3 separate regions of the Homo sapiens genome follow, and all the other regions are linked to region 3. Evidence: fine-mapped expression QTL. A gene starts in region 3. Each other region holds a variant in brackets. All regions are shown on one strand. Distances are from middle to middle.

Region 1 (5,000 bases), 43 kb after region 3:
AAAGATATAAAATAACATTGTTGTAGTTTAGGAAGATGTAAAATCATAATCGTTTTGTTTATATTGTTTTCTTTTCCTTTTTTTTGAGATAGGGTCTCACTTTGTCACCCAGACTGGAGTGCAGTGGCACAAACAAAGCTCACTGTAGCCTCGACCTGAGACTCAGTCAGTCCTCTTGCCTCAGCCTCTCAAGTAGCTGAGAATACAGGAGCACACCACCATGACCAGCTAATTTTTGTATTTTTTGTAGAGATGGGGTTTTGCCATGTTGCCCAGGCTGGTCGCAAACTTCTGAGCTCAGCACTTTGGGCTGCCAAAGTGCTGGGATTATAGGTGTGGGCCACCATGTTGGGCCTATTATTAATTTTTAAATTCATTTCTTTCTTTTTTCTTTATGTAGGGGCTTTTTTTTTTTTCTTTTGAGACAGGGTCTTGCTCTGTTGCTTAGGCTGGAGTGCAGTGGCACAATCACAGCTCACTGCTCAGTAGCTGGGACCACAGACGTGCACCACCATGCCCAGCTAATTTTTCTTATTTTTTGTAGAGTTAAGGTCTCCTGTGTTGCCGGGTTTGTCTCAAACTCCTAGTCTTAGCAACCCTCCCACCTCGGCCTCCCACTGGGAGGTGTGAGCCACTGTACCCAACCATGTACTTTCTGATTTGTTGTAATGAGTACATATTTTATTTATACTTTATTCATTTTTGAGACCAGGTCTTGCTCTGCTGCCTAGGCTGGCATGCACTGGTATGATCATAGCTCACTGCAGCCTGGAATTCCTGGGGTCAAGCAATCCTCCTACCTCAGCCTCCCAGGTAGCTGGGACTACAAGCATGTGCTACCACACCTGGCTAATTTTTGTATTTTTTTGTAGAGACGGGATCTTGCTATGTTGCCCAGGCTGGTCTTGAATTCCTAGGCTCAATTGATTCTCCTGCTTTGGCCTCTCAAAGTGCTAGTATTACAGCCATAAGCCACCATGCCTGGCCAAGTAAATGTTGTATAGAAAAATATTTTGAGGTGTGATAATGGTATTGTAGTTACATTTTAAAAGAGTTCTATTTTTAGAGATTGATAATGAATTTTTTTTTTCTTTTTGAGACAGAGTATCACTCTGTCACCCAGGCTGGAGTGCAGTGGTGCGATCTTGGCTCACTGCAACTTCCGCCTCCCAGGTTCAAGCAATTCTCCTGCTTCAGCCTCCCGAATAGCTGGGATTACAGGCATGTCCTATCACGCCCAGCTAATTTTTGTATTTTTAGTAGAGATGGGGTTTTACCATGTTGGCCAGGCTGGTCTCGAACTCCTGACCTCAGGTGATCTGCCCGCCTCGGCCTCCCAAAGTGCTGGGATTATAGGCGTGAGCCACTGCACCCGGCCTGATAATGAAATTTTTATAGATGTGTCAATGTTGTTGGAATCAAAATGGAGTCACTAGTGTTAAAAAAAAATCTCTGATAATAGAGCCAGGGAAGGCTATGAAAAGAGCATTCTCATGCTTATTTGCCTGATAAGAATTATCACAAAAGATCCTATGAAAACCACAACCTTGCACAAAGGCCATCACAACCTTATACAAAAAATATTTCTGCAAGGACTTCTGCCCAGCAACTGCCTGTTCAACCTTGGACTGGTGTCACCCTTATTATTGATCTTTGTAGCCAATGATAATTATTTTCAAAGAATCATGTAATCCTTCTCATTTTTTCCTTTGAAAACATGTGTCTTCCTTTACCTCCCTGAATACCTCATAGTTTACTATGGTACACATATTCCCATTGCAATGCTCTATTCCCGCATAAATATCTTTTTCTCTTAGACAGCCTCCCTCTGTTCGTTACTTAGGTTGCCGAATGAAATGATATATCTAGAATTTGTTTCATAATAATCAAGGATAGGAGAAAGTGAGTGGGGACACAGTGAAACATGATTGCCCATGAGTGGATAAATTATGGAAGCTGAGTGATGAGTACATGTGAATTCATTTTACAAGTTTATCTGCCTTTGTACATATTTGAAATATTCCATTAAAAAAAAGTTCATCAGATCTAAGATGGTAAACCAATAACAACAACAAAAAGTTCAAAAGTAAGATTCCCAGGCCCTACTCCCAGAGAACTTGCATTTAAAAATATTTCCCAAATGATTCTGATATACACTCAGCTACTGAATTAGATGATAGCTAATAACCCATTAATATAATTTTAAAAATTATTTTCTATATAATTCAACTGATATTTATATAGTAAAGAATTTGTGGGCCAGGTGCAGTGGCTCATGCCTGTAATCCCAGCACTTCGGGAGGCCAAGGTGGGTGGATCATCTGAGGTCAGGAGTTTGAGACCAGCCTGGCCAACATGGTGAAACCCTGTCTGTACTAAAAATAAAAAGAAAAAATTAGCATAGCATGGTGGCACACACCTGTAATCTCAGCTACTCGGGAGGCTGAGGCAGGAGAATTGCCTGAACCTGGAAGGTTGAGGTTGCAGTGAGAGGAAGGAAGGAAGGAAGGAAGGAAGGAAGGAAGGAAGGCAG[G/GC]AAGGCAGGCAGGCAGGCAGGCAGGGAGGGAGGGAGGGAAGGAGGGAGGGAGATTTCTCTGTTCCCAAAATGACAGTCAGCAGCAAGAAAAAAGGTAAATTCCTTTATTTTTATTTTTACTTTTTTTTTGAGATGGAGTTTCACTCTTGTCACCCAGGCTAGAGTACAATGGCAAGATCTCTGTTCACTGCAACCTCTGCCTCCCAGGTTCAAGTGATTCTCCTGCCTCAGCCTGCCGAGTAGCTGGGATTACAGGTGCACACTACCATGCCCAGCTAATTTTTTTGTATTTTTAGTACAGACGGGGTTTCATCATGTTGGCCAGGATGGTCTCAAACTCCTGACCTCAGGTGATCCGCCCGCCTCGCCCTCCCAAAGTGTTGGGATTATAGGGGTGATCCACTGCGCCTGGCTGGTAAATTCCTTTAGTTCACCGAGGAAGGATAAGCAACAGGTCACCCTGTAGCCCTTAACCCTAGGGGGAGGGTGGCTTGGTGGAGATGTTTGCCAGTTTGCAGAACTTATTGTTCTTCTGCCACTCAGCCCTCGTGTCTCCTTTCTTCTTCCAAGCTTCCCTCCCCTACCCTCCAGATTACCTGTTGTTGGTAGAAGTTGCTAGCGCTTTGTTCAAATCGTTCATCTTTGGTTTCTACAGCTTTCCCCAATTTCTGCAGCACCTAGGGATATAAGTCAGAAAGGCCCGTAAGGTTATAGTCAAGTCTCTCTTACATGTTGGCCTCATATGACCCTGGCTTCAGTCAAGAATCTCACTTACAACTCAAGGGCTGTACTTATTTATTTATTTATTTATTTATTTATTTATTTATTTATTTATTTTTGAGACGGAGTCTCACTCTGTTGCCCAGGCTGGAGTGCAGTGGCACGATCTCGGCTCACTGCAACCTTCGCCTCCCAGGTTCAAGCAATTCTCCTGCCTCAGCCTCCTGAGTAGCTGGGATTACAGGCGTGTACCACCACGCCCAGCTAATTTTTGTATTTTTAGTAGAGACGGGGTTTCACCATGTTGGCCAGGCTGATCTCGAACTCCTGACCACAAATGATCCACCCGCCTTGGCCTCGCAAAGTGCTGGGATTACAGGCGTGAGCCAACATGCCTGGCCTTGAAGGGCTGTACTCTTACTGGACCAAAAGAATTAGGAATACAACAAACTGCTGAAAAAACAATCCTGTTCTGTAGTTCTTTTCAAATTAGGGGTAGCTCTAGGGGATACGTAGTAGTGAGCTAGAGGATATATATTAATATAAAGCTCAGAAGAAATAAGGTATATCTGGCTGGGTGTGGTGGCTCACACTTGTAATCCCAGCACTTTGGGAGGCCAAGGCAGGTGGATCACCTTAAGTCGGGAGTTCGAGGCCAGGCTGACCAGCATGGATAAACCCCATCTCTACTAAAAATACAAAATTAGCTGGGCATGGTGGTGCATGCCTGTAATCCCAGCTACTGGGGAGGCTGAGGCAGGAGAATCGCTTGAACCCAGCAGGCAGAGGTTGCAGTGAGGCAAGATCGCACCATTGTACTCCAGCCTGGACAACAAGAGCGAAACTCTGTCTCAAAAAAAAAAAAAGAAAGAAATAAGGTATATCTTTCTGAATGTCATTGTTATTATTGTCATTATTTTATTTGAGACAGGGTCTTGCTCTGTTGCCCTGGCTGTAGTACAGTGGTGCAATCACAACTTACTACAGCCTCAACCTCTCTGGGCTCAAGCAATCCTCCCACCTCAGCCTCCCCAGTAGCTGGGACCACATGCTCACACCACCACACCTCACTAATTTTTAAAAATTTTCTGTAGAGACAGGGTCTCACTATGTTGCTCAGGCTGGCTGAACTCCTGGGCTCAAGTGATCCTGTTGCCTCAGCCTCCCAGAGTTCTGCAATTATAGGCATGAGCCATTAGGCTGGCTGGCATTGTTATTATTATTATTATTTTTTTTTTTTTGAGACGGAGTCTCGCTCTGTCGCCCAGGCTGGAGTGCAGTGGCACTATCTCGGCTCACTGCAAGCTCCGCCTCCCGGGTTCACGCCATTCTCCTGCCTCAGCCTCCCGATTAGCTTCGGACTACAGGCGCCCGCCACTATGCCTGACTAAGTTTTTTTGTATTTTTAGTAGAAACGGGGTTTCACCTTGTTAGCCAAGATAATCTCTATCTCCTGACCTCGTGATCCGCCCGCCTCGGCCTCCCAAAGTGCTGGGATTACAGGCGTGAGCCACTGCGCCCGGCCTGTTATTAATATTTAAAGTGGGTTTTTGAGAAGGAAGGAGAAAAGCATTATATTAAAACAAGTATTGTTGAGAAAACTGTAAACTGTGCATGGCTTTTAAGTAAAATGTGAGCCCTGAAGACATTTTTTACTTGAGAGACTGTTTTCAGCTATAGCCATAGGTTCCTCTAGATAGATGAGGTTAGAGAGGTTGGGCAGGGACACTTCTCTCATGGGGGCTTT
Region 2 (5,000 bases), 31 kb after region 3:
GACTTAGTGGCACGCGCCTGTAGTCCCAGCTACTTGGGAGGCTGAGGCAGGAGAATCGCTTGAATCCGGGAGGTGGAGGTTGCAGCGAGCCGAGATTGTGCCACTGCACTCCAGCCTGGCAACAGAGTGAGACTCTGTCTCAAAACAAAACAAACAAACAAACAAAAACAAAAATTAGTCAGGTGTGGTGGCACGTGCCTGTAGTCCCAGCTACTCAGGAAGCTGAGGTGGGAGAATTGCTTGAACCCGGGAGGCATAGGTTACAGTGAGCCACACTCCAGCCTGGGTGACAGAATGAGACCCTGTCTCAAAATAAATAAATTAATTAATTAATAAAATAAAATAAAAAATAAAATTTCAATTTCATTTTAATTAGGAGTCACATAATGTTTTAGAATACATGTGTTCATTAAAAAGGCTCCATCCTATGTACACTAATAAGTGACAATATAAAATATTCTGACCATAATTCTATTAATGCATCTCTTGTACAATAAAAAGAAAAAAGGATACAAATGGAGTTTCTGCTTAGATTTCTCTTTAAATGTGGAAAATCTGGCTGGGCATGGTGGCTCACGCCTGTAATCCCAGAACTTTGGGAGGCCAAGGCAGGGGGATCACTTGAAGCCAGGAGTTCGAGACCAGCCTGGGCAACATGGTGAAACCCCATCTCTACTAAAAATACAAAAAAAAATTAGCCAGGCATGGTGGCACATGCCTGTAATCCCAGGTACTCGGGTGGCTGAAGCACAACAATCACTTGAACTAGGGAGGTGGAGGTTGCAGTGAGCTGAGATTGAGTGCTACTGCACTCTAGCCTGGGTGACAGAGTGAGACCCTGTCTCGAAAAAAAAAAAAAGGGGGCGGGGCAGTGTGGGAATTTAAATCTAAAACACTTTTATCTACTTACTGTCAAGGCACACAAGGTGCCTTGTGTGAAGCAAAGGCACCTTTTCTGAATTTCAGTCATTACCTATTATAAAGAATAGGCAGCTCCTCTAGTAGTTCTTGGTTCAGATCTTCAAACACAGTCTGGGCTTTGTTGAACTCTTCCTCTGCCTAGGTGGTAAAAGAGACAAGACAATCTCCCTCAATTCTGAACCCAGTACTACAGCATGCCTCCTTCATCCTCTGCATTTTTTTAGGCACTAGGCTTTTTAGGAGCCATCCCTCTTCTTCCCCTGACCATGCCCTCCCCAGCCTCAAGACTCTGACTATCCTTACAGCATCAGTGTCAGAAGAAACAGATTTCCTTTAGGACACTGGATGCTGAATTTATAATTTCCTATACCCATGTTGGCCCAGCCACCTGCTACCACCATGGGGAGAAGGAGAACAGGAAGGGTTTACCAGTTTTTGTTGTTGTTTTTGTTTTACCTTGGCAGTCTTGGCCTCATCTTTCTTCTTGGCATTCTGCACTGCCTCCAGGTGGTGTCGGGCACTGTCATAGTCCACGAGTTTCCGACCCCGCTTGGCAATTCTCTCCTGACCCAGGGTAATGAGAAAGGGTGTGGATACTCACTTTTTAGTGGCCAGGATGTAGGTAACAGAATACCAAACAGAGAGCAAGATTCTTGCATCCTACTATCAAATTTCACTTTCGTTGTTTTTTGCTTTTGTTTTTTTTGAGACAGGGTCTTGCTCTGTTGCCCAGGCTGGAGTGCAGTTGTGCGATCTCAGCTCACTGTAACCTCTGCCTCCCAGATTCAAGCAATTTTTGTGCTTCGGCCTCCCAGGTAGCTGGAATTATAGGCATGTGCACCAAGCCCGGCTAATTTTTGCATTTTTAGTAGAGATGGGGTTTTGCCATCTTAGCCAGGCTGGTCTCGAACTCCTGGGCTCATGTGATATGCCCACCTCGGCCTCCCAAAGTGCTGGGATTACAGGCAGGAGCAACCGCACCTGGCCCAAATTTCACTTTCTAATAGGGTTTTGCGCCCATGGGGTCTCCCTCAGTATCTGGGAAGAATGGGGGAGTCTCAGAGGGAGATAGAGTCCTACAGAGCATGTGGAAATCTGTATTAATTATATATATGTAATAGATATATAATTAAATACATATATATATTTCCACCTCCACCTCCCGCTGTATTAAATTTTAATATTTCCTATGAACCCATTATAAACTGGTTCAGCCTCCAG[G/A]AGAAATGGCCTTGAGAATCACATGAAAGTGAAAGTCTGGATTTTTGGGAATTAGTCCCAAATCTGCCATTCATAGCCTGTGGCCAGTGGCAAGGCACATCTCTTTTGGAGCCTCAGTAGCCCCATCTCCCCTTATACAACTGTTATTTGAAAGAGTGAATGCTGAATACAAAGTGCTTTGAAAGCTCTAAAACACAATAAAAGCTATAAATTACTATGACCACTGAGAGAAAGTCTACTCAGCCTTATCCAAACTATAAATTATACCAGTGAGAAGCAAACTATGTCTTTGAACCGTTTCATTCTCTCAGTCACAGAATTTGAAAAGATCTTAGCAATTATCTGGTCCAATTTCCCATACAATACCATGAGGCTTCTCTATAACATCCAAGATAAGAAGTAGTTTGACTTCTGTTTGCACAAAGAACAGACAACTCACTATCTTTGAGTCTATTTCATTTCATTTTTGGAAAGCTTTAACTATTAGGAACTTAAGTCAGCCTCCTTCTAACTTCTTCCTCTGAATCAGCACGGTGCTTGACAGAGTAGGTGTTTAATAAATACTAGAGCCGGGTGCAGTGGCTCACGCCTGCAATCCCAGCACTTTGGGAGGCCGTGGGCGGATCACCTGATGTCAGGAGTTTGAGACCAGCCTGGACAACACAGAGAAACCCTGTCTCCACTAAAAATACAAAAATTAGCTGGGCTTGGTGACGCATGCCTGTAATCCCAGCTACTCGGGAGGCTGAGGCGGGAGAATCCCTAGAACCCGGGAGGCGGGGGTTGCAGTGAGCCAAGACTGCGCCATTGCACTCCACCCTGGGCAACAGAGCAAGACTCCATCTCAAAAAAAAGAAAACAAAAACAAAAACAAAAAAAAACTAGCTGAATGAATAGATGAATTCTAATTCTGCTTTCTGGAACAGAAAGCAGAACAGTTTAGAATAGGTTGAATTCCTATTTTACCTAACAGACTTTCAAATATTTGAAGATAACTATTTGATTGCTCCATGTTTCCTCTTCTATACAATAAACATCTTTAGTGCCATCAGCTGTTTCTCACAGCTAAAAGGGATGCCTCTAACTTGGATCTAATTCGAAATCAGCCCAAATATAGCTTACTGAAATCTAAGTTTATTTTATTTATTTACTTTTTTTGAGACACCAGCCTCTGTCACCCAGGCTGGCGCACAGTGGCATGATCTTGGCTCACTGCAACCTCTCCCTCCCCAGCTGAAGTGATCCTTCACCTCAGTCTCCTAGGGTGGCTGGGACTACAGACACGCACCACCACATGACTATTTTTTTTTGTATTTTTTGTAGAGATGGGATTTTGCCATGTTGCCCAGGCTGGTCCCGAACTCCTGGGCTCAAGTGATTCTCTTGCATCGGCCTCCCAAAGTACTGGGATTACAGGTGTGAGCCACTGCACCCAGCCTTGAAATCTAAGTTTAAACATAAACTTCACACTACTTCCAACCTTCTATCCTAACCTCTTGTCTAACCCTCAACCTTAATCTTTCTCCTAACTTACCCAAACTTCATTCTTAATCGTGAGTTCTAATTCTACTTATAATGCTTAACCCAATATGTTCTCTAACCTGGATGGGTCATCCACAACCCAGCCTTGATTCTGTACATTGAGTACCTTAATTTCACTGAACTGGGCAACATAGATTTCCATGGTCCTTACAGCCTGGTCAGCCAGTTTCTCCTCGTAGTCTTCCCAAAGGAGATCATTATTCTGTAGGATAGAGTCAGAGGCTGGTGAAGGCTCCACTTCCCAACAACAACTGCCTACCAGGGAAATACCCAAATTCTCCCTGCAAAAACCTTTTTTGTAGCACCGTATTTAGAATACCATGTTGGATTCTGGGGACTAGTCAGAGGAAGAAAAGAGACAGCCCCTACCCCAAGGAACTGCTCTATGGGAGTCTGAACATACATTCAGAGATTAAGAACAGGGCACAAGGTCAAAGCCTTGGACTCCAGAGCTTAGATGGGAAAGTTTAAGAGTGTATAACTGCATGAAGTTTGTTTTAAAAAACAACCAATCTTTAGGAGGTAAAACTTCCCATAATGTTTTAAAGAGGAGAAGAGGGTCAAAATTAGAGGGATCCACAGATTAGGGAAAACTTGTTTTTACCTTAACAGTTGTAGCTTCTTCCTACCACCCAGTGACTGAGGCTACACAAATGCACAGTGTGAACTGGCTCCTTTGTTTTCCTATTTTCTTGGATAGAGAAGCTAAGCTGAGGTTGAGATGCAAACAGGAGTAAGTGCCAATAAGTTGTAAAACTCAAGCCACTCTTACCCATACGATGGCCTTCAGCTCCTCATGACCGTCCCACTCGCTGCTGTAGATCTCCTGCAGGGTTTCTGACACTCTTTTTGAACTTTCATGCATCACTGAAAGGAGAGAATTCAGTCCCACCATCATGTTTCCCCAACAGTAGTTGGTGTAATCACATGGGTGACAAATCAGTGGTTCCAATTCAGAAGGACAAACTCAGAAGGTTTAGGTTATATAAGTGAGGAAAGCTGGATGGGGCTGAAAGGAAAAGTCACTCTTCCTCAGCCCACAAAATTCCAGGAGTCAAGAGTAGTCAAATGATAAAATGACAAAAACCTGGGGGTATGGCTATTGTTTTCCACCCCAAACCTCCTAGTAGCTGTATAAATGCCCTCTGGATTCTCCCATGCTGCATTGCCCACCTTTGACTGCACTAAGGAAGTTCTTCAGGTCCTTGTACAGCTTGTGGCCTTCTGCCTGAAAGAGAAAAGTACATTTGGTGACTAAAGAGATTAATATTTCAAAAGATGCTCCAGAGGTCAAAGTCAAAAAGTAGGTTAAGAGC
Region 3 (5,349 bases):
TTTTTTTAAGACAGGGTCTTGCTCTGTCACCTAGGCCGGAGTGCAGTGGCATGATCTCGGCTCATTGCAACCTCCATCTCCTGGGCTCAAGGGATCCTCCCACCTAAGCCTTTGGAGTAGCTGGAACCACAGGTGTCTACCACCAAGCCCGGCTAATTTTTAAATTTTTTTGTAGAGATGGGGTTTCGCCATGTTGCCCAGGCTGATCTCGAACTCCTGAGCTCAGTCTGCCTGCCTCAACCTCCCAGAGTGCTGGAATTACAGGCGTGAGCCACCATACCTGGCCATTTCTCTCTTTTATCTCTTCTCACCAGACAACTAAAAGTCTGAATTGTGTGCATTACCAGTCACAGAGGACACTGTCTTAGACTTCCACTGGTGGTGTCACTCACCTGTTTCCACATCAGTAAAAGCAGAGAATGCCTGTCCTAATGACAAATGTGACTGTGTATAGGAAGACAAAGGTGTATAGACCAACCAAGGGTTTGTTCCTCTCTCTCCCTAACTAGCACATGCTGAAAACAGTCAATAAATAACTGATAGTTTGTCCGGCCCAGCCTGATGATGAACTAAAAGGTGGGCATCCATTCTCAGAGTGCTGAGCAGTAGTGCCCGGCCTCCGCACACCTTCAGGGAACAATGGGGTTTTGATGCTGGGTCTGTATCACCAGAGGAGTGGAATGAGAAAGCCAGCAAAATCACTTTCAAGGGAAAGATGGGTTTCTAACAAGTACTCAGTGCTAATAACCAACGTGACTGAGTGCTTACGAGATACTACACACTCTTCTAGGTGTTTTATATGGGTTGTCTCATTTAATCTTCATAAATCATAAGATAGGTACTATTTTCCCTATTTTGTGAATGATGAAACCGGAGCTTAGAGGTTAGCAATACTATCTTTAGCAGGTTTTTAAAAAATGATTTCCCTGTTATCTTTGAAGATTCCTTTTCCACATTTAATTACAAGGGTTTCTGCTACATTCTTTGCCATAGCTATAAATTATTAGACAGATGAATGTAAAGCCCTTCCTTTAGGCTTATACAATAATCTTCCTTCCTTCCTTCCTTCCTTCCTTTCCTTTCCTCCCTCCCTTCCTATTTTTTGAGACCGGTCTCACTTTGTTGCCCAGGCTGGAGTGCAATGGCACGATCTCGGCTCACCTGTGCTTCCCAGGTTCAAGCGATTCCCATGCCTCAGCCTCCTGAGTAGTTGGGATTACAGGCGTGCACCACCACGCCTGGCTAATTTTTTTGTATTTTTAGTAGAGATGGAGTTTCACCATGTTGGCCAGGCTGGTCTCAAACTCCTGACCTCAGATGATCCGCCCACCTCGACCTCCCAAACTGCTGGCATTACAAGCATGAGCCACCACGCCCGGCCTCTTTCTTTCTTTTGAATTAGCAATGGGGTCTCACTATGTTCCCCAGGCAGGTCTCAAACACCTAGCCTCAAGAGATCCTCCTGTCTCAGTCTCCCAAAGTCCTGGGATTACCGACATAAAATTATTTGATAAACCGAGGTTACAAAGATTTGTGAAGTCACCATGTCCATGTGACTTCAGATTAAAACCGTACTAAGGGGCACACTCTAGTTCCTGCTTCCTCCCAGGCCCTTCCTGTGTGAGGCAGGCAGAGAGAGGTGGGAGTCTTCCCACCTGGGCTGAGGCTTCCAGGACTGGTCTGGGGAAGGGGATGTTGAACAATTCTTTCTCACTGGGATTAGGAAAGGCCTTCACCTACCTCTTGGAGAAGGAGTAGTCAGGAGGCTGGTCATTGTCACTAGTGGTTGAGTTTCTTGGAGAAGAGGCAGATCTGTAGGAAGAGGGGCAAAGACAGGAATGTAGCGGGTGGGCCCCTATGGCTTTGAGTCCTGGAAGTCCCAGGAAAGCCTCTGGTGCCAGGTTCTCCCAAGTCCCTTCCCCTTTTTCTCTTGTCCTCTTCTGGTTTCCCTGAATATCTCCTCAGGCTCCAGGTACCAACAGCTCTCCACAGGAGCAGGTCTGAGGCCGCATGCAGTTTGACGGGGTGTTACCTTCATACGCTCTCTCCAGGTCCTTTCAATGGGCCACCAAATTTACTTAGATCTCTCAAGGCCTGAGAAAGTCAGGCAAAGGTTCGCAAATCAGCAGCGAACCCAGTTTCGCCAAAGCGCGGTAACAGGTACCCTAGGGTTCCACAGCTAGGAGTTCTGGTGACGCCATCCACCAGGTGTCAGGAGAGGGCCGGGAAGGTCAGGACCCGCGCCCAGGCTCCAGAGCGGAGTGGGCGCAGCGCAGTAGCCGGGCCGGGACCGGGAGGCGACGGCCGTGGGCCGCCTTCTGGCTCGCCTCGGACGCTGGGACGCCGGACTGGCCGCCCCCTCCGGGCCTGCTTTCGCCGTCCAGGGCGCGGTCCGCGCACAGCCTGCCAAGCCTCACTGGGCCCCAGCCCGCGCCCCGCGCCCCGGAGATCCTCGACGCCCCTGCGAACGCGGGGTGGACGCGACGGGCTGGGTTGGTCCTCGCCCCGCGGCCCCGCCCCCGTCCCCGCCCCCGCCCCGAGCCCCCCGCGTTACCAGCACCCCGCGGAGCGCGCTGCGCTGGGGGCGGCCGGTGCGTCGGGGAGCGGCGTTCCCAGCCGCCGCGACCCTCTGCCCCAGCGGAGCGCTGAGCTTCGGCCGCTCCGGGTTTCGGTTCCTGCCACGGCCGAGGTGGCTGCGGCGAATGTGGGCGACCCGGCTCTCCGGCGCCCCCGCCCTTCCCTCGTGCTCACCTTTCCAGTCGGACGGGCTGCTGGTGAAGGGCCGGCGCCGCTCCGCGCGTCCTTTTGAACTCAACGGGGGCGGGCACCGCGGAGTCGCGGAGGCCAGCAGAGGCCGAACGAGGACCCCGAGCGGAGGAAGCCGCGGGTGGCGCGCGGGGTTGGCGCAGAGGCCGGAGGGGGTGGGGGGCAGGCCGACGGGGTGGGACAGGAAAAGCGGAGAGAAACCGCCCTCTGCAGGTCCCCTTGGCTCCCCCGGGAGGAAAGGCAGCCTGCCCTTCTCCGATTGTCACTTTACTCTCCATCCGGAGCCGCTTCCTTTCTCGCCGCGAGGCTCGGGGTTGGGGGGGGACCAGATTGGAGCCGCGGGCTAACTGGGATCCGTCCCATTTCCCTGGGCTTGACGTTCTCTGAATTTTTAGCTAATGTGGAAAGTTACATTTATTTGCATTTGTTTATCGCTTGCTCACATAGGTCTGTGTCCTGAAGCTTGGCAGATGAGCGAACTTAGCCAGCACACCCCCGGCCGTGAAGCAGGGAGGTGAAGCGGGGAGAGCAACGAGCCCCACCCGGGTCTTGCCAGCTGGACGTTCTTGTGGGGCAGCGTTGAGCAGCGGTTAGGAGTGCCGTGGACTTTGGATTCAAACAGCCCCAGCTCTTCTGCTTGCTAGCTGGGTGACTTTGGGCAAATTAACATCTCGAAAATCTGTTTCCTCATTCCTAAAATGCGGGTCTGAAAGTGATCATGCCTGTAAAGCCATCTCATATCCATGGTTCTAGAAGCATGGTGAGCACCTCAATTTGAATAATCAGTGCCATGCTTTAGCTACCTCTTGACTCACTCGTTTGTGGCAGGAAATGTTCCCAAATTAATCAGAAGAATTCAGTGACTAAGAGGATGTAATAGTATATAGCGCAGGCACTGGAATCAGCTCTGCTGTGTGATCTTGGACAAGCTGCTTCTGTTCCGTTTCTCTTATCTGGGGCAATACCTGTCTGAATAGAGTGACTGTTGGGACGAAATAGGTTAGTAAATATGTACTGTAAGGCATTAGAACCTTGCCTGGCACATAGTAAGTGCTCAATAAACGCTAGGTCTTGTTACCTTGGCTTCCCGTTTAGGATTGGAACCCTTGTGATTATTCTTTCCCTCCCAGTGATAGACTTCTGTGCTTACTTCGCACTCCTAGGCGTTCTGTAGGTTTGTAAACCAGTATTTATACAGAAATACTTTCTGTAGAAAGACAGGCATCATCAGATTGTGCATGTTAATCCGGGAACAGACCGAAAGGGAAGGTCTCAGAGGAGAGAGGCATAAAGGGAGAAAACAAAACAAAGTCACAAGCAAAGCAAGAGTAGTTGCTTTTATTCCTAAAGTGTTCATTATAAAAGAAACCAGAGGGCAGGGCACTGTGGCTCCCAGCACTTTGGGAGGCGGGTGGATCACTTGAGGTCAGTAGTTTGAGACCAGTCTGGCCAACAAGGTGAAACCCTGTCTCTACTAAAAATACAAAATCCGCTGGGCGTGGTGGCACACACCTGTAATCCCTGCTACTCTGGAGGCTGAGGCACGAGAATTGCTTGAACCTGGGAGGCAGAGGTTGCAGTGAGGCGAGATCACACCATTGCACTCCAGCCTGGGCAACAACAGCAAAACTCCGTCTCAAAAGAAAAAAACAAACACAAATACAGGAGGAAAACAAACAATAAAAAAGTGATGAAATTCATTTTATATAAATATATTGTGAGAAATATATGTAAATATGTGCATGGGAAAATGCCAATCCAACCAAGAAAGGCAAAGAAAGTGATATGCCAGCTATGCATATGTAACTTAATAAAAGAAAGGTGAGCCTGGCTTGTCCTTAGATAAGAGAATATCCAAGAGAAAAGGAAATTAAAATCCTAGAGGGCTAAATCCAAAGGAGGACAATTGCTGGCATTGACATACTTCTAGCTGTCCACCTTGATCATGAATTCCAGGAGAAGTTCAGATCGTTCTTGGACCTGGGTCTGTCTCTTTCACATTTTCTATTATGTGTTGAAGATTGTTTAGAACTATAGACTCAGCCAGGCGCGGTGGCTCACACTTGTAATCCCAGCACTTTGGGAGGCCGAGGCGGGTGGATCACAAGGTCAGGAGTTCAAGACCAGCCTGGCCAACACAGTGAAACCCTGTCTCTACTAAAAATATAAAAATTAGCTGGACGTGGTGGCAGGCGCCTGTAATCCGAGCTAATGGGGAGGCTGAGGCAGGAGAATCGCTTGAACCCGGGAGGCGGAGGTTGCAGTGAGCCGAGATTGTGCCACTGCACTCCAGCCTGGGCGACAAAAAAAAAAGAAAAAAAGAACTACAGACTCAGAGGCTATCTGGCTCAACTGACTGACTCTACTGATTTGCTGTCACTTTCACAATTTCGACAGTTGTTAGTAATGTTCTTTCAATAAGCATCTTTTTTTTCTCTTTAAAATGTAACTGGTGGGGCGCAGTGGCTCACGCCTGTAATCTCAGCACTTTGGGAGGCCAAGGCAGGCAGATCACCTGAGGTCAGGAGTTCGAGATCAGCCTGGCCAACATGGCGAAACCACGTCTCTACTAAAAATACAAAA

The links. PIP is the estimated chance that this variant, and not a neighbour inherited with it, causes the effect. A credible set is the group of variants that fine-mapping cannot tell apart.
Region 1: its variant is the best candidate, but not a certain one, in a credible set for the expression of SMAGP in whole blood (INTERVAL, PIP 0.61).
Region 2: its variant is the best candidate, but not a certain one, in a credible set for the expression of SMAGP in whole blood (INTERVAL, PIP 0.86).

What each region holds. Positions count from the first base shown.
Region 1 is chr12:51,310,694-51,315,693 of GRCh38, forward strand. BIN2 (bridging integrator 2) reads right to left here. Exons shown (of 13, transcript NM_016293.4): 2 at 3,130-3,210. Among named protein-coding and RNA genes, the nearest start is that of BIN2, 11 kb to the right of the region's middle. The variant G/GC (reference allele first, on the strand shown) is at 2,534.
Region 2 is chr12:51,298,230-51,303,229 of GRCh38, forward strand. It overlaps BIN2 (bridging integrator 2), which reads right to left. Exons shown (of 13, transcript NM_016293.4): 3 at 4,858-4,912; 4 at 4,457-4,551; 5 at 3,791-3,886; 6 at 1,378-1,485; 7 at 974-1,059. Among named protein-coding and RNA genes, the nearest start is that of BIN2, 23 kb to the right of the region's middle. The variant G/A (reference allele first, on the strand shown) is at 2,143.
Region 3 is chr12:51,267,505-51,272,853 of GRCh38, forward strand. It overlaps SMAGP (small cell adhesion glycoprotein), which reads right to left and starts at 2,911. Exons shown (of 4, transcript NM_001031628.2): 1 at 2,752-2,911; 2 at 1,741-1,812. The coding sequence starts at 1,774. RefSeq lists silencers at 2,180-2,849, 2,890-2,969 and an enhancer at 2,585-3,085.